Homo sapiens: one gene and its partners. The protein of the gene in region 1 purifies or fractionates together with the protein of each later gene. This does not show direct contact. Each region holds a gene or a part of one and is shown in the gene's direction. Other genes may lie near its edges. The genes, in order: NLK, MYBL2, CNOT2, BACH1, ISCA1, WDCP and CEP97.

Region 1 (4,184 bases):
AGCTTGTCAGTGTGATCCTGATATTGCTTGGAAGTAACAGAGTGTCTGAGGCAACAGTTGTAACACTGTCAGTGAGCACATAACAAGTCATGATAGACATAGTCAGTAGTTGTAAGGTACCTAGTGCAGAAACAGAAAAAACTGGTACTCTGGCATTATGGAAAGATGACTTCTAAGTGAACTCTACTGAGATTGAACTTTAACTCTTAGTTGTAATGGTGTGAGTAGAGGGAGTATATATGGGGATGTCTGCCACTCATAATGATTGGTGCTCTTTACCTAAACCCAGTTTTGAAATAATTTGGCTAATTGAGTCATATCTACTATGAGGCAGTGAAAGTTTTTAACACCTTTGGAACTCACTAGTCTATATATTTTTATTGTCACTTCGCTGTGGACCAGCACTTTTGCAAGCACCAAATGGGGATATTTAGTCTTATAAATAATTTTGCGAACCTCTATTAAGCTGCTGCTGCTGTTGTCTGTATTGTGCTTAGTACTGAGGTATAGGGATGTTTAAGTCACCATATTGCTTTGGAGGAGTTGACAGTCAAGTAAACAATATGAACAATGAAACATGCCTACTCTCAGGGTGTCCTCAGCCTTGGTGGAGAGGTGAAACTAAATTTGAAACCATTAAATAAAAACTTAAGAATATATTATTTTCAGGCCAGGCATGGTGTCTCACGCCTGTAATCCCAGCACTTTGGGAGGCCGAGGAGCGGTTCACCTGAGGTCAGGAGTTCAAGACCCTCCTGACCAACATGGTGAAATCCCGTCTCTACTAAAAATGCAAAATTAGCTAGGTGTGGTGGCACATGCCTATAATCCCAGCTACTTGGGAGGCTGAGGCAGGATAATCACTTGAACGCAGGAGGCAGAGGTTGCAGTGAGCCAAGATCGTGCCGTTTCACTCCAGCCTGGACAACAAGAGTGAAACTGTGTCTCAAAAAATATATATATTATTTTCACTTGTTCTTACAATATTCAATTATTGTATGTTACTATTTGCCAGGCACTGTGCTGGAGATAAGGATTAAAGGTGATTATGACCTACTGGGTGAAATAGATTTGTAAATGGATTATTATAATTCATTGCCATAAATGCAGCAATAGAGATAGTCCCTGGACATTAAGGGCGTGTAGAGGAGGGATTTCTATGGAAGGTCAGGATGCTTCCTAAAATAGGTAATTCTTCAATGAGTTTTAAGAATGAGAGTCAACCAATGGGGAAGGGCAGTCTAGGTGGAAGGGCCTATATGCAGGAGACTACAGGGCTGGAGATGCTGAATGTGCAGTGCAGTGGGTGGTAGGAAGTGTAAGCTAGAGCTCAATCATGAAGAGGTTGGAATGTCATGCTTGAGGCACTAAAAACAGCTTTTTATTAATAAAGCATATGTGGACATATAGCACATAAACAGTTAAATAGCATATCTGTGGTATTAAGATTTTACGAGGGGATGATTAGGAAAATAGCCTAAAAAGGCTCCGTAGGCGGGCAATGATGAGAAAAGGTTAAAACTGCGAATGGCAACTACTGAAAGTTTTTAAGTAAGAGAGACTTCGTCAGATTTAATTTTTTTTTTTGGATATGTAAAATAGAAGAGTAGAGAGAACTGAGATCTGTCTGAGTCTTAGGGAATGTTCTCAGTTGTAGGTGGAAGAAGCTACTGGAAGCAGAACTAAAGGGCAGTTAGGAAAATGTGTTCACAATGATTGACAATCTAAGTATGGCAGAAGATTGTTAGGAAAATGGGAGTGATCTTTGGTGCTGATAAAAAGTCAAAGAAGGCCGGCCATGGTGGTTCACACCTGTAAACCCAGCACTTTGGGTAGCTGAGGTGGGCATATCACTTCAGCCCAAGAGTTCGAGACCAGCCTGGACAACATAGTGAAATCTCATCTCCACTAAAAGTACAGAAAAAAAAAATTAGCCTGGTGTGGTGGCACGCACCTGTAGTCCCAGCTACTCAGGAGTCTGAGGTTGCAGTGAGCTGATATCACACCACTGCACTCCAGCCCGGGCGACAGAGTCAGAACCTGTCTCAAAAAAAAAAAAAAAAAAGTCAGAAAATTAAGATGGAGAAAAGGCCAAAAGGCCATTGTATTTAGCCTGATAGTAAATAGATCATTGATGGCATTTGAGAGAGTGATTGTGTTTGATTGATTCTAAAGAATGTCTTAAGTATTCAGTATTACTTTTTACAATTTTTTAAAATTATTAATACAATTCTTCCAAATCTCATTTGTTTGTTTGTTTGTTTGTTTGTTTGTTTTTAGTTTAATAAACCAGAGAACTTGATGTTCAAGGTGCCATTTCCTTGGGAAGGATTTTTTTTTTTTTTTGAGACAGAGTCTTCCGCTGTCACCAGGCTGGAGTGCAGTGGCATGATCTTGGCTCATGCAGCCTCCACCTCCCAGGTTCAAGGGATTCTCCTGCCTCAGCCTCCCGAGTAGCTGGGATTACAGGCACGTGGCACCACACCCGCCTAATTTTTGTATTTTTAGTAGAGACGGGGTTTCACCATGTTGGCCAGGATGGTCTCGATCTCTTGACCTCGTGATCGGCCTGCCTCGGCCTCCCAAAGTGCTGGGATTACAGTTGTGAGCCACTGCGCCCGGCTTTTTTTTTTTTTTTAAACAATGGGGTAATAGATTACTAAACTAAACTTGTTAGGAGACAAGGTTCTGGTCCTAGCCTTGCTGCCAACAACCCTGTGACCTTGGTAAAGTTATTTAAACTTTCTGAGCCTTGGTTTTCTCATTTATAAAATCCTGTGTTTCCTAAGATTCTATTATAAAATGATATTAATATTTGTTGGAGTTTGCTGGTGACCACAAGACAACTTTCTCTCTTCAGGACTACAGTGTTGAATAGCTTCTAAAATTGTTTAAAGGAGGAATGAGATAAATGTCACCCTGTTCCAGAGTGGTGACTTTTATAGAGTTTTCTAATTTGGGATTAGATTTTAAATGTTCATTTTTTTTTCATCAAGAGACTTGTTTTCTTCTATTACTGAGTTATTGGTAAGGATTATACATGTAGTTCAGCTGTGGAGAAGAGCAGGCCTGTTTGCAAATGAGCAATTTCTTCTACATGTCCATTTGATACTACTATTTTCCTGATAATATTTACCTTTTTAGTGTTTTAGACTTTAAAAACTTGCTTAGTTTCTTATAAGTCTTACAATAGTTTTCTTACAATATTTTGAGTGATTTTTAAATTTTTAAATAAAATTTAATGTTCAGTATTTTGTCATCTTTTGTGTGTGAGTAATCAGGTAAGATGATTTGGGAGCCAGTGCTTACATTAATTTGCAAGTTTCTTTAAAACAAATTTCTTTCCAGGAGTCTCTTTTAAATTCTGAATTTGGATAAGAGAGTTACTAGTTTGCATGTGGGCCTCCCAGAAAATGAGCTTTGACACAGCTTTCAGGCTGTAGTAGTTTAGGGCTTACAGTGCCCAAAGAGGGAGAGTGACTTCCTAAAGCTCTTGTCCAAGAGGAAGGGAGCATTTTTGCAGACACCCTCAGCAAACCAGCAGTGCTATCCAGTAAATACATAGTGAAAGTATGCAATCTTAAATTTTCTAGTAGCCACAGTAAAAAACTGAAAAGAAACAGGTGACATTAATTTTAGTAATGTATTTTAACTCTATATCCAAAATATTGTCATTTCAACATGTATTCACTATAAAAATTATTAATGATCTATATTACTTTTTTTTCATACTGAGTCTGCAAAATCACTATGTATCTTCATGCTTAGAATATGTCTCAGTTTGGTCTAACCACATTTTAAGTGTTCTGTAGCCACACATGGCTACTGACCAGCACCAGCATATTGATCTCTGGTGTTTTTTTTTTTTTTTTTTTGAGACAGTCTTGCTCTGTCACCACACCTGGCTATTTTTTTTATTTTTTTGTGGAGATGGGGTCTCACTTTGTTGCCCAGGCTAGTCTCAAACTCCTGGGCTCAAGCAGTTTGCCCACCTTGACCTCCCAAAGTGCTGGGATTACAGGCCTGAGCCACCGCACCTGGCCTCTCTTTGGCTTTTGTTGGATTACATACTCATTTCTGAACCAGTCACTGTCAATGAAGGTAAGATTACTTTTGGAGCAATCAGATCCACTTCTGGACCTGGAGATGGAGTCAGTTTTAAATGGGAGGGATGAATACCAGCA
Region 2 (4,184 bases), on another chromosome or scaffold:
AAACAAACAAACAAACAGCATTGGAGCACCAGGGAGTGTCCATGCAGACATCATTTCATCCTTGAAAGAATATTTGCTGACCTTCTGTTAGAAGCCAGGCCTTTGTGCTGGATGCTGGAGAAGCAAAGATGGTTTCTGTCACGAGCTGTCTGGGGGCAGTTGATTTTAAAGCCAACTTCATTCTGTTATTAGTATCTTCTGGATTTTTGCCTTCTATATTGAAGTGGTGGAGGACCCATGAACTGGGTCAGGAATGAATTCCAGATCCTTCTGTATTGCTGACTGTAGACACCGTCCCTCCTTTCCTATTTCTGAAAATTTTTTTCTTTTGAAATTGGGTCTTGCCTGGCCTAAAAAATTTAATTAGTATTTCTTATTGACTAATAGGCAGCAGCTTTGCACATTTTTTCATTTATTTGTATATTCAGTCAGTCCCTGGGCAAACATTTCTTAAGCCCTTTTGGTGATAAACCCTGGGATGCCAAGGTGGAGCTGACCTTTGTAGATGATGTGGAGGAGACAGGCAGTTGCAGTGTAAGGGCCCGAGACAGGAGGGTTTCCCATGTGCTATGGAAGTATAGGAGTGACTCTAGGAAGCAACGGTGAGCTTTGGAGAACAAGGAGAAGGTAATGTGGATAGCACAGTAAGCCTTCTTTCATTTGTTTCATTTCCAAACAAGACTTGCCTTGTTTGGAAACCTGTAAGCTTTTTCCAGTTTACAAATGTCTGACCTAGCAACTTACCTGACCAACGTGACCTGATGCAGGTCCTGTCGGGTGGAGTTGGGGAAAGATTACTAACTTTCCTCAAGCACCTGACATCTCTGGAGGTGGATCCTATGATTTCTTTTTTTTCTTTTTTTTTTTTTTTTTGAGACGGAGTCTCCCTCTGTTGCCCAGGCTGCAGTGCAGTGGCACGATCTTGACTCACTGCAACCTCTGCCTCCTGGGTTCAAGCAATTCTCCTGCCTCAGTTTCCCGAGTAGCTAGGACTACAGGTACATGCCACCATGCCCAGCTAATTTTTGTGGGTTTTTATTTATTTATTTTTTTTGAGATGGAGTCTCGTCTGTCGCCCAGGCTGGAGTGCAGTGGCACAATCTCTGATCTCTGCTCACTGCAACCTCCGCCTCCTGGGTTCAAGCAGTTTTTCTGCCTCATCCTCTCGAGTAGCTGGGATTACAGGCGCATGCCACCACACCCAGCTAATTTTTTTGTATTTTTAGTAGAGACATCATTTCACCATGTTGACCAGGCTGGTCTCGAACTCCTGACCTTGTGATCCACCCACCTCGGCCTCCCAAAGTGCTGGGATTACAGGTATGAGTCACCGCGCCCGGCTGATTTCCATTTTTTTTTTTTTTTTTTTTTTTTGTGAGATGGAGTTTCGCTCTTGTTGCCCAGGCTAGAGTGCAATGGCTTGATCTTGGCTCACCGCAACCTCCGCCTCCCAGGTTCAAGCGATTCTCCTGCCTCAGCCTCCTGAGTAGCTGGGATTACAGGCATGCACCATCACACCCGGCTAATTTTGTATTTTTAGTAGAGACGGGGTTTCTCCATGTTGGTCAGGCTAGTCTCGAACTCCCGACCTCAGGTGATCTGCCTGCCTTGGCCCCAAAGTGCTGGGATTACAGGTGTGAGCCACCACACCTGGCCCGATTTCCATTTTTGTAACTATTAAACTGGATAAATACGAGGATTTTTTGGAGCAACTTGGAAGATTGCCTTGTAGAGTAAAAACACCCAGAATTCAAAGCAGCTCGTACTGTTTTTTTTTTTTCCCCTACAGCGGCGTTAGAAGATATTGTACACTGGGCCGGGCGCGGTGGCTCACGCCTGTAATCCCAGCCCGTTGGGAGGCCAAGGCGGGTGGATCACGAGGTCAGGAGTTCAAGACCAGCCTGGCCAAGATGGTGAAACCCTGTATCTGCTAAAAATACAAAAAAAATTAGCCGGGCGCGGTGGCAGGCGTCTGTAATCTCAGCTACTCAGGAGGCTGAGGCAGGAGAATCGCCTGAACCTGGGGGGCAGAGGTTACAGTGAGCTGAGATGTCGCCACTTCACTCTAGCCTGGGTGACAGAGTGAAACTCCGTCTCAAAAAAAAAAAATAGATACTGTACACTGATTTTTCTCTCCATTAATTATGCCTGTGTGTAGGCAAGGATTGAAAAGGGATTTGCAAAAATGGACATAAGCCAGACACGGTGGTGCACACCTGTAATCCAAGTTACTTTGGAAGGCTGAGGCAGGAGGATCCCTTGAGCCCAGGAGTTCAAGACCAGTCTGGGTAGCATACTGAGACCCTGTCATTACAAAAAAAAAAAAAATCAACACACGAAAAAACAACTTGGCCAGTCACAGTGGCTCAGGCCCGTAATACCAGCACTTTGGGAGGCCAAGGTGGGAGGATTGTTTAAGGCCAGGAGTTCCAGATGAGCCTAGGCAAAATAGTGAGATGTTTCTACAAAAAAATACAAAATAGCCAGGCATAGTGTCATATGCAAGTTGTTCCAGGTACTTGGGAGGCTGAGGTGGGAGAATTGGATTGCTTGAGCCTAGGAGTTGGAGGCTGCAGTGAGCTGTGATTATGCCACTACATTCCAGTCTGGGTAACAGAGCCAGACTCTGTCCCTAAAAGAAGAAAAACAACAAATGGACATAGAGAATATATTCAGAATTTTTTTTCCAAATAACTAATATCTCTTAAAATCTTGATGCCTGTTAACTTCATCAACTTTATTCCTTAAAATATCCATGCAGGTTTGTTACTGAAAGGAAAAAGCGATAGTCTGATTTTGAACATAATATTCTTGGTGAAATCTTAACTTTCTTTTTCCTTTTCTTTTTTTGAGACAGTCTTGCTTTGTCACCCAGGCTGGAGTGCAGTGACATGATCTCGGCTCATTGCAACCTTCACCTCCCGGGTTCAAGCAATTCTTCTGCCTCAGCCTCCTGAGTAGCTGAGATTACAGGCATGCGCCACCGCACCCAGCTAATATTTGTATTTTTAGTAGAGATGGGGTTTCACTGTGTTTGATCAGGCTGGTCTTGAACTCCTGACCTCAAGCAATCCACCCACCTCGGCCTCCCAAAGTGCTGGGATTACAGGTTTGAGCCACTGTGCCTGGCCTCTTTTTTTTTTTTTTTTACAGCTTTTGAAATCACTAGGGCATTCCTGAAAATAAAAAAGAAGAAAGTAGCTCTTAACCCTATTTCATTAAAAAATTTAAAAAGAGGTGAGGTCGGGTGTGGTGGCTCATGCCTATAGTCCCAACACTTTGGGAGGCCGTGGTGGGAGGATTGCTTGAGCCCAGGAGTTCAAAACCACCCTGGGCAATATGGTGAGACCCCGTCTCTACAAAAAATACAAAAGTTAGCCGGGCGTGGTGGCATACCCCTGTAGTCACAGCTACTTAGGAGGCTGGGGCGGGACGATCATTTGAGTCCAGGAGTTCAAGGCTGCAGTGAGCTACGATCATGCCACACTGAATTCCAGCCCAGTGACAGAGTGAGACCCTGTCTCAATAAAAATAAGTGAAGCAGAAGTGCCTATGTCTTAAAAAGAAGAAAAAGTAAGAGCCTCTCTCCCCCAGACCTTTCCCTAGGGTGGGCTGGCCGCTGCCTACACGTTCTCCATTATGTAAAACATATGGACACACCATCCTTGACCCTTGGCCTGCTTTCCCCATAGCGAGGATCTGGATGAGCTGCACTACCAGGACACAGATTCAGATGTGCCGGAGCAGAGGGATAGCAAGTGCAAGGTCAAATGGACCCATGAGGAGGTGAGTGCCATGGGGAAGAGAGGGTTGATGGCAGCTGGGGGCTGTCCAGAGGAACTGAGCCTGGAGTGTATTTGATGTCTCATCAGATGGGATGAAGAGGAGGAGCCGGTGAAGGAAGGGATGGGTCCTCTGATTGTCCTCATGCCTCTTCTCAGAGCATTCTGGGGGATTCTCAATTTTGAGGACTCAGTGGGTGGGAAGGGGATGTGTGTCCTAGACCTCAGGGCCCATTGTGTCTCCTGAGCAGCTGCCATGTTCTATGTCATGGACATTGATTGTGCTTTTTGCCTTTTGACTGCTAGGAGGTTTGGCCAAATCTGTAACTCCCCCCACCCTTTTTTTTTTTTTTTTTTTGAGACAGAGTTTCGCTCTTGTCACCCAGGCTAGAGGGCAATGGC
Region 3 (4,184 bases), on another chromosome or scaffold:
GTTTTATAATTGATTGCAATTTGCTCACTCTGTAAGTCGCTTTCAAGTAGAATACTGACATATTCTTTTAAATTTTATTTTGTTCATTTGTATTTGAGAGTTAACTGGTATTTATAATATCTAGTCAAATATTTAAATAAAACAAGCTTTTAAACCAAAATTGTTAATAATTAATCCAATATCAAATTAAATTTTTAAGCACCTACGCATGACATGGATTACTGTTGATTTCCCTTGTATTATTTTGTATGTTGAGTTATTAATCAGTAAATGAAAATTTAGTTCTTCATTGTTACCCTGGATACTAATTTTTTGAAGTACGCTTTCATAGCATTAAAAAAAAGAAACCTTTTGGTGTATTATCATGAGGAAAGTTAACTTTATAATCTGTAGCAAAATATCATAAATATCAATTGCAATTCTCCGGATTATTTTCATTACATAGTTGGAATGGTAACAAAACCAGCAAATGAACAATCCCAGGACTTCTCAATACACAATGAAGATTTTCCAGCATTACCAGGCTCCAGCTATAAAGATCCAACATCAAGTAATGATGACAGTAAATCTGTAAGTAACTGAGAAGTGTGTATGTGAGTGATGTAGTTTTTCCCTTCAGATTTCTCTTATATTAACAATTACTTACTAAATACTATTACAAAACTGTTTTATCTTGATATCTGTAATAACCTAACTTCTGAAGAATGTGGAAAAGCTTTATAACTTAGAAGATAGCCTATTTTTTTCCTATTTCATATAGGTTTGCAAATTTCTGTTGAACTTCTCAGAGTTAATTTAGACTTTTATTGTAGTCCCTGTCAGCTGGATCCCATGAAGTTTGATAATATAGCCTTCTAAGGAGCTGTGTTTTTCTTGAGTAAGTTTTCTCCTTGAAGAATTTATACACATTTTTATACCTGTGTTGATTCAACCAACTCAGCTTCTTCTTTCTGACTTAACAAATATGTTTATTTCTTCCACATTTCACTGAAAATAGCTTTTCTCTGTGTGTGATGGGAGTTTATATATTATTAAAATAATTGATAAAGAAGATCGGTAAGAATTAAAATAAGTACAAAGTTTTAAAGCTTGTATGTCTAACTTATCTTCAAGGTAGCTTTGGTGATTTTAGGTAATATACTATATTTAGTTTCTCTTTTACATGAAAGCATTGAGGAGTGTAACTTCAAGTGTATCCCAAAGCATAAAGACCTGAGAAAGAGATAGATTTTTTTTTTTCTGTGACTGAAGATCTGAGATAAATAAGATATTTTCCCTTGATTTCTTTTTCTTTAAATACTCAAATGTGGATGATATAGGATTTATTTGTATACCATGGAACAATGATGGAAACAATTTTCTATAGAACTTGAAAAACAGGTAATAATTTAACTACCAATTTAAATGTAATAAAGAATAAATAGCAAGGTATTAATATGTGAACTTGAATTTGTATACTTAACAAATTTTAATGTCACATTTAATTTTTTTCATGCTAGAATTTGAATACATCTGGCAAGACAACTTCAAGTACAGATGGACCCAAATTCCCTGGAGATAAAAGTTCAACAACACAAAATAATAACCAGCAGAAAAAAGGGATCCAGGTGTTACCTGATGGTGGGACTCTAGAAATCTATGTCAAAGATATTATAGAATGCTTTTTTTTCTATTTTTTAACTTTTTCTTGAAAATAAAAGCAACTGTGTTTTTCCTACCCAGGTCGGGTTACTAACATTCCTCAAGGGATGGTGACGGACCAATTTGGAATGATTGGCCTGTTAACATTTATCAGGGCAGCAGAGACAGACCCAGGAATGGTACATCTTGCATTAGGAAGTGACTTAACAACATTAGGCCTCAATCTGAACTCTCCTGAGTAAGTTTTTTCTGTTTTTCCATGTCTGTATATAATACCTCTTCAGACTTCCAGTTTTTAATATCATGTCATCAAATTATCTCACCTACTGCTACTCATTGTTAACCTGCTGATTCTCTGGGTCATTCCCATTCATGTTAGCTCTTAGATCACTGTCACTCTGCAGTATTCCTTTTATAATTTGGCATTTTATGTGTGTGTGTGTGTGTGTGTGTGTGTGTGTGTGTGCATGTGCATGTATATATGTGTGTGTGTATATATATATATATACACACACACACACACACACACCTTCCAGAATCCTGAAATCTCAGCTCCTTGAATTTCTTTCCTCCAGGAATTTTTGTCCTGTAGTATACTTCAGCCACTCCTTTAGTTATCCCTTTGACCTAGTCATTGTTCGTAACTGCAGTCTCTCAATTTTAAAATCTGAGCTCGCATGCTTTCCGACTTCCACTTTCTATTTTCTATTTCTCTTCTTCTAGTACTGTGATTCCTGTAATCATTTCACTCCATTGGGACCTTCAATCTATTGATTCTTCGGTATTTTAACTGTTCTTCCAGATCCCCGTCTCTTTTCCCCTGTGATCAACTCCCTTCTTACCCATGAAATTCTGTGGTCAGTCATAATTGTTCATTTACATATCCCATGACTACTTGCCATTTTCTCATGTTGTTATACTTGCATGGCCAAAGCTACAGTACTGATTGTTTCTGCCTATTTCATTCCTGACCTGTGCTACTGAGCTCTGCTAGAGAAAAACACATGATATCACTGCCTGGTCTTCCTTTATTTTCATGCCCAGGAGCCTCAAAAGTAGGCTCTTAATTCTACCAGTGATAATTATACCTTGCATGCTTAGTCCATTTACTCTTTTGCTCTCTTATGCAACTATCGTACACTTCTGCATGCCCCTAATACCTTTTCTCCTTATTCTTACTATCAAATGATGATCTTGCTTTTCACTTTTACTGTACTAAGAAAGATGGAAGCAATTAGAAGAGCACATTTAGCACAGTCTAGCCAACAAATCTGACTACCTACAGCCACCTACACCTATGTTATTCTTGTTTTCCACCCTATTACCATAATTGACCCATGCGTTCTACTTACAACACATTTTCACACTTTGTTGGGTCATTTTCATCAACATAGAAATACATTGTTACTTCTCTCATCTTAGAAGAAAATCTTCCTTTGATCCAACCTCCTCCGTAAGTTACTTTCCCATTTCTTTATTTCCCTTTGAAGCGAAACTTTTCAAAGAGTCATCTCCATTTCTCCGACTTGGTCTTCTCCCATTCTCTGGTAAGCCCATTTCAGTCAGGATTTTGTCCCTGCCACTTCACTAAAGCTGCTTTTATCAAGGTCACCAAATGACCTTCATGTTATTAAATTCAGTGGTCACTTGGAGGAACTCTTGCTCCTTGATACACATTCTTGTACTTGAATTTGAGAGCACCATTTTTACCTCATCTTCACTGGTTGGTCTTTTTCAGTTTCCTTTGCTGGTACCTCCTCCTTTTCTTCTTGACCTCAGTGTCATTCCTCTTCTCTGCATTTACATCCTTGATGATCTTTTTCTAGTCTTATTGTTTTAAATACCATATATATTGAGGAATCCCAAACATATGTTTCCATTCCACACTTCTGAGTTTGAGATTTCTACATTCAATTGCCAATTAAATATTTCTTGAATGATCACCCCCCAACTTATTCTGTCTACAGCCTTTCCAATCTCAGTTAGTGGTAACTCTGTACTTCCAGAAACTTGGCATTATTCTTAACTCCTCTTTCTTTTATACCCCATAATCAGGCTTTTCCCAAAATATATACAGAATCTAACCAAAGCTCACTACTTTTAACTGCTACCACCCTTGTTTGAATCATTCTCTCTTGCCTGAATACTCCATTAGCCAGTCACTGGGGGTCCCTGATTGTCCTTATACCCCTTCCCGTACAATCTCTTCATATAACAGCCAAGACAATCCTTTTTTAATACATTACTCCTCTGCTCAACACCCAGTAAATGTTTGTGGTTTCATTATGATTAAAAACCCCAAATCTTTTTTTTTTTTTTTTTTTTTTTGAGACAGAGTATTGCTCTTGTCGCCCAGGCTGGAGTGCAGTGATGCAATCTCGGGTCATTACAACCTCCACCTCCCAGGTCCAAGCGATTCTCCTGAGTAGCTGGGATTGCAGGCATGTGCCACCATGCCCAGCTAATTTTTGTATTTTTAGTAGAGACGGGATTTCACCATGTTGGCCAGGCTGGTCTCTTAACTCCTCACTTTTCAAGTGGTC
Region 4 (4,184 bases), on another chromosome or scaffold:
GAAGTGCAGTGATGTGTAAAAGGGTGCAGTGGAAATACTTGAAGATAATCTACACATTGGAGTGTAATATGTATAGCATATGTAAAAATTAGTTTGTACTGTTACTCCTTGAAGTCTGTTTTTTTTTGTTTGTTTTTTGCCAAGCTTATGTTCTCTTAAGATTAATAAGACGACATATTCAGTAAATCCCTTGGGAAGTGGCATTTATTCAGAATATCAACCTCCTACTAGTGCTGGGGGCGGGTGGCGGCGGTGAGGGTGGTTAGTATTTACCATTCAGTTAAATCTCATGTGCCATGTGCCTTCTACACCCCTGTACTGTGAGAGGTGATGCTCAGAATAACAGTTGCAAAGCCCGTTAAAATTACCACTTGTCAGATTTTCTCTTCATAGTGCTGATCTCTCCATGACTTACGTTTTAGGAATCACCACCTCTCTTCTAATTTTCTGACTAATGTTCTGTTAATGAGAGAATTGTCTTAACCCTAAAACCTGCATTCCCTGAGCATTCTAGACAGAGGGTTTATTTTATGTGGTGGAACGATGATTTTTGAGATTGTTTTGATTTAAAATATATGTCAAATGAGGTAATGTACCGATGGCCAAGGTATGGGTAATTTGAGTGCAATTCGCCAGAATCCGTGCCCCTTGGAGGGAGTAAACATTTCAGGACTGCAGCTAAAACATTGACTTACACTCTCCTGAAGCCCAGGCACCTGGCTTACACAGTGCACTAACATAACTGAAGTCTGGGTTTGATCACTGTACAGTTGACAAAGAAGCAGTAAGCAGAATGGTTAAAAAGTAGTTCTGGAGCCAGACTGCTTAAGGTCAGGTTCTGGTTGTGTCACCCACTTTAAAGCCTTGGGCAAGCTCTTCTACCTGGTAACTAGTGCCTCATTGTTTCCTCTGTAAAACAGGGGTGGTGATAGTAGAATCTGTATCAGAGAGGTTGTTGTGAGGATTATATGCGTTAATACGGGGTAAGTGGTTAGAACAGTGCCAGCTTTATAAGAAACATCAAGTGTTAGGTGTTATTATCTGTTGTTCAGAATCAGGGAAGTACTTAGTTACACAGTAGTGTTTTATAGCTGTTGAGAGCTGAATTGCCGGCATTGATCACAAGTGAGACTGGAAAAACAACCCGGGGAACACTCTTATGTTAAGTCAGTAGCACCATCTCAAACATACATCCAACTTCTGAGGGCAACGAACACAGGACATAGCTTTTTACTTAAAGGAATCTTAACAGTCTCAGCGGAGTGCTTGAGGTAGTCACTAACCAGTTAATTGAAACTGGCTTTTACGAAATAAAAACACTTGCCATTCTTTGGCTAGTCTTTTCCACGTTGTAGTTGACATTGTGGCCTGGCAGCTTTAGTAACCTGTCCACCCCTCCCTTCTTGTTAATACCAGAACAGAACTAGTTTCTCAGTACATATTCCTGGGCCCTATCCAGTTTGTTGGAAACATTTAGAATGTAAATTTGTAAGCTAATTAGTTTCTTCTAAGTATTATGTTTTCTTTAGATGATATGCCTGTACTAATACAGAAAAATTATCCATGAAATGGATATGAATACAATGGACATATTTATCGTATAGCTTTTTGTACCTGTTAGTAATTCAGAAAGGTTGTGTTATTTTGACCATTCTTTCAGCCAGATTGTAAGTTTCCTGATGGTGAGAATCTGTGTCTTTCTGTTTTATCTCCTATGGCACTCTGAATGTGCCTTGGCTGTGTTTCTTTAATAAACTGTTGGTTGCTGAACTGGGTGGTATGATATGCGTTCATTCTAGTTCTGTGATTTTGAAACTTGGGAATGTTTAACAGATTGAAGGAGAGAACATCGTGTGTGGTACCTTGTAAGTGTGCACTGAGTTGAAATTCTTTTGATTATTTAGCTTTCTACTTTCTGTTTTTATCATTGGTGTGATTATTGAGAAGGCAGCTGGAATTAAGTAATTCTAGTTCATCTCCTAAGATAGACATAAAACTTGTCTTGTGACTTATTTTTACCCATAATTGGATTAGAATTGAATTGAGCAAAATATAATTTGGTTTTCTAGATGTTAAATGTCTTATATGTCTAATACTTTGAATATCACTCCTCTAGAACAGGTTCTTTGTTTTATTTAGGATCAGGGACAGGTTAGAAAATATTCAAATATTCATAGGATAATAAAAAACTGCCCTGAAGCAAACGTGAGGAAGAAGAAATAGTGGTAGCCAGAATCTTGGTTGTTAATGACCAGTGTAGAAACACAGTGGGCATGCAGTGAAATTGGCTGGCAGCTGGTTCCTTCTCAGTACGGGCACAATTTAGAAAATGTTACATTAATGCAGCTGAAATTTTGTGCAGATCATGTTATTTGAAAAATAAATGTAAACACTTTTTGCAGTGCCTTAGGAAAGTCATCGTTCAAACTAATATTTTTGTAATAAACTAGTTATTCCCAGTTTTTTTTTTCTTTTTTTTTTTTTTGAGATGGAGTATCACTCTGTCGCTCAGGCTGGAGTGCAGTGGCGCGATCTCGGGTCACTGCAACCTCCGCCTCTTGGGTTCAAGCAATTCTTCTGCCTCAGCCTCCGTAGTAGCTGGAATTATGGGGCACCCCCCACCATGCCCAGCTAATTTTTGTGTTTTAGTAGAGATGGGTTTCACCATGTTGGCCAGGCTGGTCTCGAACTCCTGACCTCAAGCAATCCACCCGCCTTGGCTTCCCAAAGTGCTGAGATTACAGGCGTGAGCCACTGTGCCTGGCCCCTAATTATTCCCAGTTTCTTTCAGGTAAAGTTTTTTTCACTTTTTAAATTTATCATTTTTTTAGATCAGATCAGTCAGTGGACAGTTGCACTCTACTTCCCCATCCCTCATTAAAGTGGAATTACACTAAAAAAGGTTTTCAATTCCTTTGTAGCCTGGACATTAGTAATAGCCTACCTCTAAGGCTGTAGAGTAAATAGTATAGTAAGGGAAATGTCCCTCCCTCCCCCTACACACCTTTTTTCCAGTTATCTCTTCTTTTTATTGATTTGTCTGCCTCCAGGACCCTAGGGAGGTGTTTTTGTCCTAAGGAGGTGAACTCCTGAGGGTCCTATTGAAGAAATAGGGCGACCTATCCACCCAACTTCCTCTTTACTGATATCTTCACATGCTTATTGCCTTATTCATTTTCTAAAGTGTGCCAGCGTCTTTCAGAAGTCAGCTAAATTAGTGCAGTTGCTCATCCATCAGACAGTTTTGTTATAAAATATGTGGCTATAAAAGATTGAATAAATTTATTAGGTTGTAATTTCATTAATGTGTATTTTATATTTAAATATTATTTTAAAAAATGTACAGTGGTTATCTGATCTTGGCCCAGGCCTCTTCAATTTCCAGTGTACCTGATGTCTCTTTATCAACTGTTTTTCTGAGGTGTATCTCAGCCTGGCCTTGGGTACTCCCCTAGGTAAGAGTCATAATTCAGGTTAAAAGAGGTAAGAAAAAAAAAAGCTTTTGGCTTTTGTAATCTTGTTTTTTTTTTTTTCTTTCACATTAGCAAAAGACTGTTGAAGTAGAGAGCATTTTGCCCAGCTCACTCGGATTCTTTGCTGGCATGCCTTCAGTTTCAGTTGTCATCCAGAGAAGTCAAAGGAAATGCTGCTTGGGGATGAGCATGTAATTACGATTAACTTTCCCTACTTCGTTGTCTCTTTGTGGTAAAAGACTGTCACAAGTGCTATTCAAACTATAGGTATTTTTTTTTAGATTTCTAAAAAGTATATTTTGTCTCTGAGGGCCTCCTGTCTTTGGACTAGTTTGTCTTTTTCCAGACCCCAGAAAGGCTGGGCCACCTTTTCTTCTTTGAGCAGGTTGGCAACAGTGGTCACAAATAGCAGAGGAGCTGAGATTCTAGAGAGCTATCCTACCACTGCTTCTCAGATGCCAGTGTGGAAACAGCCTCTTCTTTTTTGTTGAATTAGCTTGGAACAGCTCTCTAATCTCTGAAGAGTGAGGAAAAACTGTGTTTTTAAGTTTCAAGGCTAAGGCACTGTGTTCTCTTTTCTCCCTGTTCCTGCTGCTGTTCTCCCCCAACTCACATGAACGCATACTTAACTTTCAGTGTATGTGGACAGTAGGGTTGCTAAATTCATGTCAATATTTGTGGCATTCCTACATGTTAGGCATTTGGTTTACA
Region 5 (4,184 bases), on another chromosome or scaffold:
GTTCCAGCATTCGTGCCCTAGTCAGGACACTATGGCATGTATTGCTCTTTGTGCTTAGTTTATCATCAGCATGTATCGTCAAGTGCAAAAGTAGTGATGCCGTCAAAGGCCTAATGAATGGAGACAGATAAGAGAGCAAACAAAAGTATACGTAATTCAGTAAAACTGATTGGAAGAGGTAAATGTTACTTGGGTCTAATAAGTAGAGACAGATAAGAGCAAACACAAGTATACCTAATTCAGTAAAACTGATTGGAAGGGATAAATGTTACCTGGATATATAAATTTTGATGTTAGGAATTTGACATGTTGCAACATTTGAAAAGTGCTATATGTGTGGAGTCTACCAGATGTCAACAAAAGGCTAGGAAAAGTAACTGATAATATAACACAGTTCAATGCTGTCATTATCAGATTATCTACATCTTCCCTATTTCCCTACATATCTAGAAATTGACAAGTGGAATTGAACTTGCAGGAGCCAGATGTGATTAAAGAATCTGAAGAGTAAATAGTGCCCTGCTTGCAGACAGATTTATTTCCATCATTGTACAAGTCAGAGCAACTCTAATTTGTAGGACTGGGGTGGATCACAGCTGTGCATTAAAACTCAACCAAGTTCTATGAGAGAATGATGGTGCACAGCCACTATCATTCTTGATGAATTCATTGTGTACGGAAGGTGCCTTAGGGCTTAACTTTCTATTGGAGTCCAGTTGAGAAGCTAGGAAATGCTTAATGCTCAGTAAGGAACTGTGTGTTAGTTCATTGGACTAGAACCAGAAGTCCTTTTGAACAGTGACCAAGCACTAAGATTTCTATACGAAGGCAGTTTAGGAAATACTACACAAGAAGCACTGGAAGTAGCCTAGCAGTCTAACAGTGAAAGAACGGTTAAGTACGTGAGAGTAGATCCTGTTGGTGAAGGATGTAGTCATTGTAAATTATGGTTTTTTTTAAGTTTCAGCGTTATAAATCTTCATTCTTTGACTTATGCTGTGCAAATTATTTAATCTTTAATACCTAAATCACAATGGCAGGAATAAAAAGATGTTACGTTTAAACCATTAAACACTTAGAAGGTGCTCAGTAAATGGTGAATATATGTTTATTACCATGTATCAAATGAAAAAATAATTTGTTAAATTGTTTCAATGGAGGCTGCAAAATTATGTATATATGCCATGATTACAAACCTTTTTCTTTTTAGAGACAGGATCTTCCTCTGTCACCCAGGCTCATATGCAGTGGCATGATCATGGCTTACTGCAGCTTCAAACTCCTGGGCTCAAGCAATCCTTTCACCTCAGCCTCCCAAGTAACTGGGACTACAGGCACATGTCACCTTGACTGCTAATTTTTTTTTTTTAATTTATTGTAGAGACAGGGTCTTGCTCTGTTGCACAGGCTGGTCTCAAACTCCTGGCCTCAAGCCGTCCTCCCACCTTGGCCTCCCAAAGTGCTGGCATTACAGGCATGAGCCACCACACCTGGCCTACAAATATATATTTGTATATTATATGTATTTTGGATGTGTATATACACATATACACAAATAAGAAAAGACAAAAGAGAATGCTTTTGTCTTTTCTTATTTTGACACTCTAATGCCAGCCATGGCTGTTAAAGAATGATTTTAATAAAATACACTGTACTTGTTCACTGGCTCTATTTATTTACCATCTTTTGTTCCCCCAGAAAATTGATATGTTGACATTAAAATGCCATGTTTGTAGAGAAATTAAGTTGTAGTTGTTGGCACATGTTTAGTATGCATAATCACAGAGTTAACTTTAGCTTTGAATTTAATTTAATTTTCTTAAACAGCAAAAAATGAAAATTGCCTGGGGAGTTACTTAAAGAAATACAGGATTGAGAATGAAAAGTTTCTCCTACAAGGATTAGAAAGCGTGTTGCTATGAAGTAGTGATAAAACATTCATCTACAATGCCTTTTCCCTTAATTTTAACAGCGGAAACATCTTGGAAATATATTTATTTTTCAATTAGGCCAAAATACCTTACCTCAAAGATAACCTCTCACTTTAAAAGTCATATTCCTGTGATTTGCATGTGAGTAAAAACCATCATATTTTAGTGGGCTTCAGGAAGCTCTTAAATTTTAAAACATGGGCCAAATCTCAGGTAAGCTATATTCATTAATAGTACATAAATTTCTTGAGAATTACATGTTTCTTAGTTGTTCTGGGAAGTGCACTGGTACTGGCAGGCTGCTAGGCCCTGCAGCATGCTGTGTAGTTGAAGATTTTATGCTGTTTCTCACATGAATTTTACCTAAGCACAAAGTTGCCAGAGTATGTAGACTTAAAGCAGGGTAGGATTCTTAGCCTCTCCCTGGTACTGAGACACAAAAAGTACCTCTTATAGCTCGATTTTTTTTAAGTCCCAACTCTTCCCTTTTAACCACTCTCCCTTGTTCTGAAAATCAGATCAGTCACTTTGAAAGTTCTAAGAACCTTTTCCCTTGGTTGAGTACTGACCTGGGTTGTCCATCATTAGTAACACCCTCCCAGTGGAGTAGGTTTGGTTTTGGCCTGGCACAGGAAAATTAAGACATATTTTAGTTCCTGTAACAGCAGCTTCCCAGGCACACAGGTTCCTGTTGAATGTTACTTTTCCCTTAAAGAGTCCTTCAGTATGAGATGTGAACATCAGCAACTTGGTGATAAGTAGACCAATCCCCACGAATTGCTTTCATTTACTGTATTTAAGTGTTTCCTGCTAAAAGTTGAGAAAATAAGAAAATAGATGACTTTGTAAAACCAAATTAGATAATTTAGAAAACCACTTGGAGATAAAAAAAATTATATATTTGGGGCTGGTAAACGGAGTAGTGTGACAGACACATTTGTTTTGTTTAGATCATGCAGTGGTGTGCCCATCTGTGCCTTTGATCCACTCAGATTAAACCAAGACCACGTTTCAGATTTTAGTTCCCGCGGATATTTTCCATGGCTATGCCTTTTTTTTTTTTTTTTTTTTTTTTTTGAGACAGAGTCTCACTCTGTTTCCCAGGCTGGAGTGCAGTGGCATGATCTCGGCTTACTGCAGCCTCCGCCTCCTGGGTTCAAGCGATTCTCATGCGTCAGCCTCCGGAGTAGCTGGGATTACAGGCGCATGCCATCATCCTCAGCTAATGTTTGTATTTTTAATAGAGACGGGGTTTCACCATGTTGGCCAGGCTGGTCTCAAACTCCTGACTTCAAGTGATCCTTCCACCTTGGCTGACCTCAAGTGATACTTCCACCTCGGCCTCCCAAAGTGTTGGGAATATAGGCATGAGGCACCAGGCCCAGCCAGGCTATGCCTTTTTAAAATAAACTTACAGAAAGCTATTTTTATTTGACAGTAAGTGATTAATTTCTTCAGCATGCACATAGGAAAATATGGTGAAAATTTACATGTGGTTGATAAGAAAGCTAGCTTTTATTGACAATCACTTAGAACAGGGGTCCCCAGTCCCTGCGCTACAGACTGGTACTGGTCCATGGCCTGTTAGGAACAGGGCCTCACAGCAGGAGGTGAGAGCAGCAGGCAAGCCAAGCATTACCACCTAAGCGAGCTCCACCTCCTGTCAGATCATCAGGGGCATTAGATTCTCATAGGAGCACAAACCCTAGTCTGAACTGCAGGTGTGAGGGGCTAGTTTGTGCACTCCTTATGAGAATGATGCCTGATGATCTGTCACTGTCTCTCATCACCCCTAGATGGGGCCATCTAGTTGCAGAAAAACAAGCTCAGGGCTCCCACTGATTGTATATTTTGATGAGTTATATAATTATTTCATTATATATTACAATGTAATAATAGAAATAAAGTGCACAATAAATGTAATGCATTTGAATCATTCAGAAACCATTCCCCTTATCCGTGGAAAAATTGTCTTCCACGAAACCAGTCCTTGATGCCAAAAACATTTGGGACCACTGCTTTAGAAGGGTAATGAGCACTTTAAAAAATAATAACTATTTCTGTAACTATTTAAAGTTGGTATTCTGTGACTCAAAAAACAAAAACAAAACCATAATCCTGCTCTTCCCTGTTTTCTCCTTCCACCCTGTGTGCTACTTCCTGCGTTGGAGGACTGCATGCCTCCTTTTCTGACAGAACCATGGGAAACCATGGGCCTTTAGAGGCCCACCTACTGGTAGTGGTTTGTTTTTT
Region 6 (4,184 bases), on another chromosome or scaffold:
TTTTTAGATAGAGCTTTGCTTTGTCACCCAGGCCGGAGTGCAGTGGCGCGATCTTGGCTCACTGCAACCTCCGCCTCCTGGGTTCAAGCGATTCTCTGCCTCAGCCACCCAGGTAGTTGGGATTACAGGTGTGCACCACCACACCCAGCTAATTTTTGTATTTATAGTAGAGATGGGGTTTCACCATGTTGGCCAGGCTGGTCTCGAACTCCTGACCTCAAGTGATCCACCCGCCTTGGCCTTCCAAAGTTCTGGGATTACAGGCGTGAGCCACCACACCCGGCCCTATTATACTTTTAAAAAATTGATCATTTATTCCTTTTGTAATGAGAAAAGTAAAAGTTACACAATAATCAAAAGCAAGAAATAGTTTCCCCTGTAATTTCAGAAATTACATTTCATAAGACGTGAAATAAATGATTAGTTGGTTTTGACTTTTACAGTTTATTCCTGTGACTTCATTTAAAAATATTAGTGGACATATTCTTTGAGTGGTTCATCCTACCACAGTGATGTATAGTTTTATTTTCTTTTTATGAGATGGGGTCTTGCCATGTTGCCCAGGCTGCTCTCCAATACCTGGGCTCAAGCAATCCATGCACTCTGGCCTCCCAAAGTGCTTAACAACAAAATAAGTTAGACACATAACTTATACAACTGTCCTTCATTTATTTATTTATTTAGAGATGGAGTCTGTCTCTGTCACTCAGCCTGGAGTACAGTGGCACCTTCTCAGCTCACTGCAACCTTTGCCTCCTGGGTTCAAGTGATTCTCCTACCTCAGCCTCCCGAGTAGCTGGGACTACAAGTGTGTACCACCATGCCTGGCTAACTTTTTTATTTTTTGTAAAGACAGGGTTTTGCCATATTGCCCAGGCTGGTCTTGAACTCCTGGGCTCAAGTGATCTGTCCATCTTAGCCTCCCAAACTTTTGGTACTAAGGGGTGAGCCACTGTGCCCAGCCAATTTTTAATGACTTTAAAATTTACAAATCATTTATTTTTATTTGTGCTTTTTCTAAGCTATGTGAATTTTGACCATGGTTTGTTTATTTTATGCAAATCCTCTGCTACTCTACCACTTAGGACACTCTCTCGGCATTTTTTTTCCTAATAAACCATGAGGTGTCTTAGCTATATCTGAAACAGCCAAGAAGGTGTTCTTACCGTCAGATTGTGTCTCTCAGGCTGCTGTCCATCATCCTTTTAGTGTTATTAGTTGTATTCTAGGAGAGCCAGTTCCTAGTGATGAAGAACCCTGAGGAAAGAGTAGAACAAAAGGAAAAATAAGGCTGTTTTGTTCGGATTTTTTAGTTGTGTTAAATAATGCAGCAAAGAGCTCCTTAAAACTGAAGTCCAGTTGATTAGTGGTAATAGATAAGAATTTTTTAAAAAACTATTTACACATTCCTTTCTTAAGAAATGTTAACTCGATTACTTCTGCAATCAGTTTAACAACTTTTATTTTTTATTTGCAGAAACCTTATTATCTAGGTCCTGTTGTTGAAAAAAGAGCGGTGCTTCTCTGTGATGGTAAACTAAGGCTCAGTACAGTTCAGCAGACTTTTGGCCTTTCTCTCATTGAAATGCTACATGGTAGGTCGTGCTCAGAAATTGACCCTAGCTAACATCCTTGCCTCCCCCACCATCTGTTTTAACTATGCCGGTAATGAAAATGAGGGATACCAACCATTCAGTAATTCACTGGATAGTTAACAAGTAATCTATTATTATTATTATTATTGAGACAGGGTCTTGCTCTGTTGCCCAGGCCAGAGTGCCTCGGTGTGATCATAGCTCACTGCAGCCTCGAACTCCTGAGCTCAAGCAATCCTCCCATCTCAGACTCCCAACTAGTGAGAACTATAGGTGTTCACTACCATGCCCAGCCAAGTTTTGTTTGTTTGTTTGTTTGTTTTTTGGAGATGGAGTCTTGCTCTGCCACCCGGTCCTGGAGTACAGTGGCGCAGTCTCAGCTCACTGCAACCTCCGCCTCCCGGGTTCAAGCAATTCTCCTGTCTCAGCCTCCTGAGTAGCTGGGACTACAGGCGCACGCTGCCATGCCTGGCTAATTTTTTGTATTTTCGTAGAGACGGGTTTCACTGTGTTGCCCAGGCTGAGCTCAGGCAATCCGCCTGCCTCGGCCTCCCAAAGTGCTGGGATTAAAGGCGTGAGCCACTGCACCCAGCCTCAGCCAAGTTTAAAAAAAATGTTTGTAGATAACGGGGTCTCACTCTGTTGCCCAGGCTGGTCTTGAACTCCTGACCTCAAGTGATCCGTCCACCTTGGCCTCCCAAAGTGCTATGATTACTGGCATAAGCCACCACACCCAGCCTTAACAAATATTATTAATTGCCTACTATATACCCAGGCCTAGTATAGGTGCCAAAACATATGGAAAATATGCACCCTGCCCTTAGGGAACTTACAGCCTAGCTGGAAAAGTTAAATGTACATATGAAAAAATAAGAAAAGACTTACAAAGCAGTGTATAACAACTGCAAGGAAGTAACAGAAAGCCTCATTTATTTCTGTTGCACTAAAATGTAAAGATCATAGCAGCATTGCAGAATGTTTCTTTCTTTCTTTTTTTTTTTTTGAGACCGAGTCTCACTCTGTCACCCAGGCTGGAATGCAGTGGCATGATCTCGGCTCACTGCAACCTCCGCCTCCTGGGTTCAAGCGATTCTCCTGCCTCAGCCTCCCGAGTAGCTGGGACTACAGGCACATGCCACCACGCCTGGCTAATATTTTGTATTTTTAGTAGAAATGGGGTTTCACCATGTTAGCCAGGATGGTCTCGATCTCCTGACCTCGAGATCTGCCCGCCTCGGCCTCCCAAAGTGGTGGGATTATAGGCGTGAGCCACTGCGCCCGGCCTACAGAATATTTCTTTGAGGAGTTGCCATTCTAATATGGAGTAAACATGGATGTTCAAAGGATATTCCTAAGTGGCAAGGGACTGAGTCATGCCAGATTCATCAGATGTGGAGCATGGTTGTTTTCTTATGCCTCATTCTTGTAACAGTAGCCACCACATTGAACATCAAATATCATTTCATTTTTTCCCCTTTTTCTCCTACCTGACCCTAAGTAATACCCAGTCTTCCCAATACCCCATTCTCTGTAAAATCTTACAAGGATTGAGTTGAATATTATCAACTACTATATTCCTTCACTCAGAAAAAAAAATTTGTAGTCATATGTTTCATCATAAGAATAATATATACTAAATTGCCTGTGTATTTATTTTTATTTGCAGATTCCCACTGGATTCTTCTCTCTGCTGACAGTGAGGGCTTTATCCCGTTAACCTTCACAGCCACACAGGAAATAATCATAAGAGATGGCAGCCTGTCCAGGTCAGATGTCTTCAGAGACTCTTTTTCTCACAGTCCAGGTGCTGTTTCTTCTCTTAAAGTCTTTACAGGCCTTGCTGCCCCCAGTTTAGATACCACTGGCTGTTGTAACCATGTAGATGGCATGGCTTGATATCTGCAGTGTCCTTGCTGTGTAGCTCTTCAGATGAGACCATTACAAACAAGGCCTGCTTGACACTGGACACTCGCCAATGAGACTCCCACTGCACTCAGGCGAAGCGCTTGCCATGGTCGGCTCTCCTGGTTTCCCCCTGTTTCCCCTGAGCTGAGGCTCGCTGCTGTGTAGCAGAGCTCAGTCTTTATTAGATGGCTCCGAAAGTGGTGTTTATGTATTCATGACTGTGTGGTTTTGACTAAGGGCAGAATTCTCAGAACAAAACAATATTATGGTGCCATATGGATGGTGTTTTATGGTTTCTCTGAGGCTTTGTGTCCCTTGTCCAAAGCTGCATTGAAGCTGTCTTAGGAGCACTTAAAAGATACCTTGGCATTGTTATAGGTCTTTTTCTTGGCTTCAAGAGGAGGTTGAGGAGTCTGCTGGGGGGCATGTGCTCTAGCATATTAACCTCAAACCAGCAAGAATTAGCAGAGCTCCAAGGAGGACCAGAGACCCACTGGCTTCTGCTCTCAGGAACAGGAAGTGGCTCTGATGTTGCCTGGACCTCCCAGAATTTAAACCAAACCCTCTTGCTTCCTTAACAAATTCTGGCTGACGAAGGTCCAGGTACTCTTAAAAACTGGCCCTGGGAAAATTTTGAATGAAATTTCAAGGGAATTTGTCCCCTCTGGGTTCCACTTGAGGTTG
Region 7 (4,184 bases), on another chromosome or scaffold:
TAAATATTGTTGCCTCATTGGATATTATTACCATCAGATATGTTCATTAAGCCCTAGAAGCAGTATCTTAGTTCACTTTTTCCCAGATCTTTAGCAGAAATCATTTTTAGCAATAATTATTCTAAACATTTTGATGTAGCCAGATGTTGTCCTAATAGATGCTAAGAGAATTCAAATGAACCAAAGATGATTGAATTTTTTTTTTTTTTTTTGCTGGAATAGAAGCCTATTTATCTGATCAGAATCCTGGGTGTTCAGTTTTGGGTTTATTCTTGGTTGTTGCTGACTTAATGTGAGTCAGCTTTATCTGCAAGTAACACATTCTACCTCCCTTTATTTTTTAGTTACCTAGAGAATACAGTTGCAATTATGGATGTAGGTTATCACTCTCTTTTTTGGAAAATTTGCTTTATATGTGGTTGTTTTAATGACTTTTTTTTTTTTTTTTTTTTAATTTGAGACATCAGAGTCTTGCTGTCACCCAGGCTCGAGTGCAGTGGTGCAGTCATGGCTTACTATAGCCTCGACCTCCTGGGCTCAAGTGATCCCCCTACCTCAGCCTCCCCAGTAGCTGGAAATACAGGTGCACCTCATCATGCCTGGCTAATTTTTTGATTTTTAGTAGAGACCAGGTCTCACTATGTTGCCCAGGCCGGTCTCAAACTCCTGGGCTCAAGCAATCTTCCCTCCTTGGCCTCCCAAAATGCTGGGATTACAGGCATGAGCCACCACACATGGCCTCTATTTTGATATTTTAAAAGAAAATGAAAAAGTGTGTTAGAAATTGCTCAGTGTCTCATAAGTTAAATCTCACAGCATGCCTAGTTGCTATGCCAAGCATGTGTTTTTGGACAAGTCTTTAAAATATCATGAGCTTAGGATGTTGGTATGAAAACAGAGAGTTGGACCAGAAGATCATCAAGGACCCTTGTAGCATTAACAGTCTTTGATTTGTGTGTGATGAGAAATATAATAAAGTAGATTCCTTTATTCTTATATGTACCATTTTGGTGTTGTCACAATAGGCCAATTTATTTGTAATCTTTTCATTTGTAATTCATACTGTTTTTACTTTCAAGACCCTGCTTTTACATGGAAACATCATCACCTCTCTTAGAATGGCACCTGCTTACCTACCCAGAAGTCTTGCTATACTTTCTTTGGCAGAAAATGAAATCCGAGACTTAAATGAGGTAAAATTTGAGGGTATTTTGTGAGATTCAGGAAGCTGGAAATCCTAGGAAAGACACAGGAGAGGGTTGTGAGCTTACTTTTAGACTGTGAGCATCTTGGAAGAAACTGCCATTCATATGAAATGCTTGGCTCTAGATCTTTCCACTTTTCCTTAGTGTCAGTGGGTCATTAAGGTCTAATTTCCTTTGTAAAGCTGTAATTATCATTCCACTGGGAGGCGATTGGTGGTAGAGGGACATCTACGTTATAAGGGTTTATAAGACTCCCTGTCCACCTTTCCTGGCTGCTGTGATGTTTTCAAAATAGGGTTATTTCTGCTAGGAAACAGTGCTGATATTTGCCAGGGGATTTTGTGCAGCAGGGACAGATGGCTATATTGTTGAAACTTTGGAAGTCAATGGACACTTGTCACTTTTCAGAACAAGAGGGAAATTATCACATTCTCAAATGCTGCCAAAGATATGTAATCAGTGGAAATTTTGTGCTTGACACTGAATAGTCCTTTTGTTCAACAAAGATATCTTTTGTTCCAGATCTCTTTTTTGGCATCCTTAACTGAATTGGAACAGTTGTCGATTATGAACAATCCTTGTGTGATGGCAACACCATCCATCCCAGGATTTGACTATCGGCCGTACATCGTCAGCTGGTGCCTAAACCTCAGAGTCCTAGATGGATATGTGATTTCTCAGAAGGAAAGGTAAACATGTGCTCTTTAACATCACAAATGTTACTGAAAAGACCATTTCTAGTTTACTACAGATTAATAGAGTATTTCTTAAAATGTGCATTTAGATAACAAGAGTATTAGTGCAGTCATGTAGCAGACTATATGCTGGTCATTTAGGATTTTCTGTCATTTCTAAAAAAGGATAAGAAATAAATATTGGCCTGGTGCAGTGGCTCATGCCTGTAATCCTTGCACTTTGGAAAGCCGAGGCAGGAGGATTGCTTGAGCCCAGGAGTTTGAGACCAGCCTGGGCAATATAGGGAGACCACATCTCAAAAAAAAAAAAAAATTAGCTGGGTGTGGTGGTACACACCTGTAGTCCTAGCTACTTAGGAAGCTGAGGTGGGAGGATTGCTTGAGCCCAGGAATTTAAGGTTACAGTGAGCTATGGTTGTGTCATTGCACTCTACCTTGGGTGACAGAGTGAGACCCTGTCTCTGAAAAAAAAAGAAGAAATCTCGGCCCCAGAGATTGGAGCTAGTAGTCTTAGTGCCCTACATACAACAATTTGATTTCTAAAAGTTCTTTTGTTAATCAGTTGTTTGGAGCTTGGAACACTTTTGCTTAGAAACCATCATGTTATAGATCCTGTGTAGGATCTCAGATCAGTCTCACAAAAGCTTGTAATATATTAATCTATCACATATATAAGGGCCGTATTTTTTATTCATTTTATTTTCTATTTTATCATCCAGCTCCAAATGCCATGTAAGGGCAGTATTAGTAGTATCTTAGAATTCTCCAAATACTCATTATAATGATAACTCTGGGAAAATGCAGAGTTTTAATTTGGAACTAGTAGCAGATGTGGTGATTGGTCCTCCTCTTCTTTTTTTTTTATTTTTTTATTTTTTATTTTTTTTTGAGACGGAGTCTCGCTCTGTCGCCCAGACTGGAGTGCAGTGGCGGGATCTCGGCTCACTGCAAGCTCCGCCTCCCGGGTTCACGCCATTCTCCTGCCTCAGCCTCCCGAGTAGCTGGGACTACAGGCGCCCGCCACTACGCCCGGCTAATTTTTTGTATTTTTAGTAGAGACGGGGTTTCACCGTTTTAGCCGGTATGGTCTCGATCTCCTGACCTCGTGATCCACCCGCCTCGGCCTCCCAAAGTGCTGGGATTACAGGCGTGAGCCACCGCGCCCAGCCTTTTTATTTTTTTTGAGACTGAGTTTCACTCTTGTTGCCCAGGCTGGAGTGCAATGGCGCGATCTCTGCTCATCACAACCTCCACCTCCTGGGTTCAAGCGATTCTTCTGCCTCAGCCTCCCAAGTAGCTGGAATTATAGGCATGTGCCACCACACCCAGCTAATTTTGTATTTTTAGTGGAGGCAGGGTTTTTCCATGTTGTTTAGGCTGGTCTCAAACTCCTGACCTCAGGTGATGCGCCCGCCTCGGCCTCCCAAAGTGTTGGGATTACAGGCATGAGCCACTGCACCTGGCCAGGTTCTCCCCTTCTTATACCTGTGAAGCAGCAGAAGCAAGAATTCCCCCACCTGTAAATCATTAATAGTTTCTGTGGCTTGGAGCTGGGATCCCTGCAGAATGGAGTCTTCTGGACCCTGATACCTGATCAGTGGAATGAGAGCTTTAGGGGAGGTAAGGAACTAGGATATGGGAAGGAGGGAGTGGAATTGGGATAGTGAGAGTTGAGATGACTTTATTCTGTCTACTATGCTTCATTTAACTTTTTTCTCTCAGTACATACACACATGCATTATGGACTCAACACATACATTATCCCTCGCCTTTTTTTGTTCTTCTCTACTACAGACAGTAGTTACTTCAGGAGTTTCCTGATGGGAGGACGGGTGGTAGATTACAGACAGCGTCTCCCTTCTCTGTCTCTCTGCTGTTTTGTATAGTTTCTGAGTAAAGCACAGGGCCGTGAGGAATGGCAGCCAAGAGCTAGATAGTGGTGGTGCTGGTGTAGGGTGAGGGACATATGTCAGGTCTAGTTTGCCTACAGGAAAGGGTGGCTTTTCTTTTTCCTGCTGTGAATGTTGCTCTGAGAATAAACCTTATTTTGTTTCAAACTGTGACTAGTTCTAGATTTGGAATATGGGTTTACTTGGATAATCCTCTGTACAGTTGTTGACTTCTTCTGTGGGAGTAGGACTGGCAACATTTTCATGTCTGAGAGGCAGCATGGTGATGTGGGCAGAGATAAAGGTTTGGTGTAAAGAGAGACCCACAAAGAGAGATGAGACCTGCTTACGATAGACAGGGGAAGGCTTCACTTTTTTCTCTGCTATCTATTAGC

What was found.
Region 2: the proteins of NLK (region 1) and MYBL2 purify together in Homo sapiens (affinity purification with western blotting, with the first as the bait; one study listed by BioGRID). This does not show direct contact.
Region 3: the proteins of NLK (region 1) and CNOT2 purify together in Homo sapiens (affinity purification with mass spectrometry; 2 studies listed by BioGRID and IntAct, with this or other methods). This does not show direct contact.
Region 4: the proteins of NLK (region 1) and BACH1 purify together in Homo sapiens (affinity purification with mass spectrometry; one large-scale study listed by BioGRID and IntAct). This does not show direct contact.
Region 5: the proteins of NLK (region 1) and ISCA1 purify together in Homo sapiens (affinity purification with mass spectrometry; one large-scale study listed by BioGRID and IntAct). This does not show direct contact.
Region 6: the proteins of NLK (region 1) and WDCP purify together in Homo sapiens (affinity purification with mass spectrometry; 2 studies listed by BioGRID and IntAct, with this or other methods). This does not show direct contact.
Region 7: the proteins of NLK (region 1) and CEP97 purify together in Homo sapiens (affinity purification with mass spectrometry; one large-scale study listed by BioGRID and IntAct). This does not show direct contact.

What each region holds. Positions count from the first base shown.
Region 1 is NC_000017.11:28,049,033-28,053,216, forward strand, and holds part of NLK (serine/threonine-protein kinase NLK), read left to right. Parts: intron 1-4,184. UniProt on the Homo sapiens protein: Serine/threonine-protein kinase that regulates a number of transcription factors with key roles in cell fate determination. Positive effector of the non-canonical Wnt signaling pathway, acting downstream of WNT5A, MAP3K7/TAK1 and HIPK2.
Region 2 is NC_000020.11:43,670,114-43,674,297, forward strand, and holds part of MYBL2 (myb-related protein B), read left to right. Parts: intron 1-3,692; coding exon 3,693-3,786; intron 3,787-4,184. UniProt on the Homo sapiens protein: Transcription factor involved in the regulation of cell survival, proliferation, and differentiation. Transactivates the expression of the CLU gene.
Region 3 is NC_000012.12:70,336,944-70,341,127, forward strand, and holds part of CNOT2 (CCR4-NOT transcription complex subunit 2), read left to right. Parts: intron 1-445; coding exon 446-570; intron 571-812; coding exon of another isoform or gene 813-842; exon of another isoform or gene 843-1,476; intron 1,477-1,499; coding exon 1,500-1,620; intron 1,621-1,722; coding exon 1,723-1,879; intron 1,880-4,184. UniProt on the Homo sapiens protein: Component of the CCR4-NOT complex which is one of the major cellular mRNA deadenylases and is linked to various cellular processes including bulk mRNA degradation, miRNA-mediated repression, translational repression during translational initiation and general transcription regulation.
Region 4 is NC_000021.9:29,301,659-29,305,842, forward strand, and holds part of BACH1 (transcription regulator protein BACH1), read left to right. Parts: intron 1-3,545; exon of another isoform or gene 3,546-3,664; intron 3,665-4,184. UniProt on the Homo sapiens protein: Transcriptional regulator that acts as a repressor or activator, depending on the context. Binds to NF-E2 DNA binding sites. Plays important roles in coordinating transcription activation and repression by MAFK.
Region 5 is NC_000009.12:86,275,695-86,279,878, reverse strand, and holds part of ISCA1 (iron-sulfur cluster assembly 1 homolog, mitochondrial precursor), read left to right. Parts: exon of another isoform or gene 1-1,662; intron 1,663-4,184. UniProt on the Homo sapiens protein: Involved in the maturation of mitochondrial 4Fe-4S proteins functioning late in the iron-sulfur cluster assembly pathway. Probably involved in the binding of an intermediate of Fe/S cluster assembly.
Region 6 is NC_000002.12:24,030,240-24,034,423, reverse strand, and holds part of WDCP (WD repeat and coiled-coil-containing protein), read left to right. Parts: intron 1-1,166; exon of another isoform or gene 1,167-1,218; intron 1,219-1,477; coding exon 1,478-1,595; intron 1,596-3,261; coding exon 3,262-3,491; 3' UTR 3,492-4,184.
Region 7 is NC_000003.12:101,730,761-101,734,944, forward strand, and holds part of CEP97 (centrosomal protein of 97 kDa), read left to right. Parts: intron 1-1,079; coding exon 1,080-1,193; intron 1,194-1,727; coding exon 1,728-1,894; intron 1,895-4,184. UniProt on the Homo sapiens protein: Acts as a key negative regulator of ciliogenesis in collaboration with CCP110 by capping the mother centriole thereby preventing cilia formation. Required for recruitment of CCP110 to the centrosome.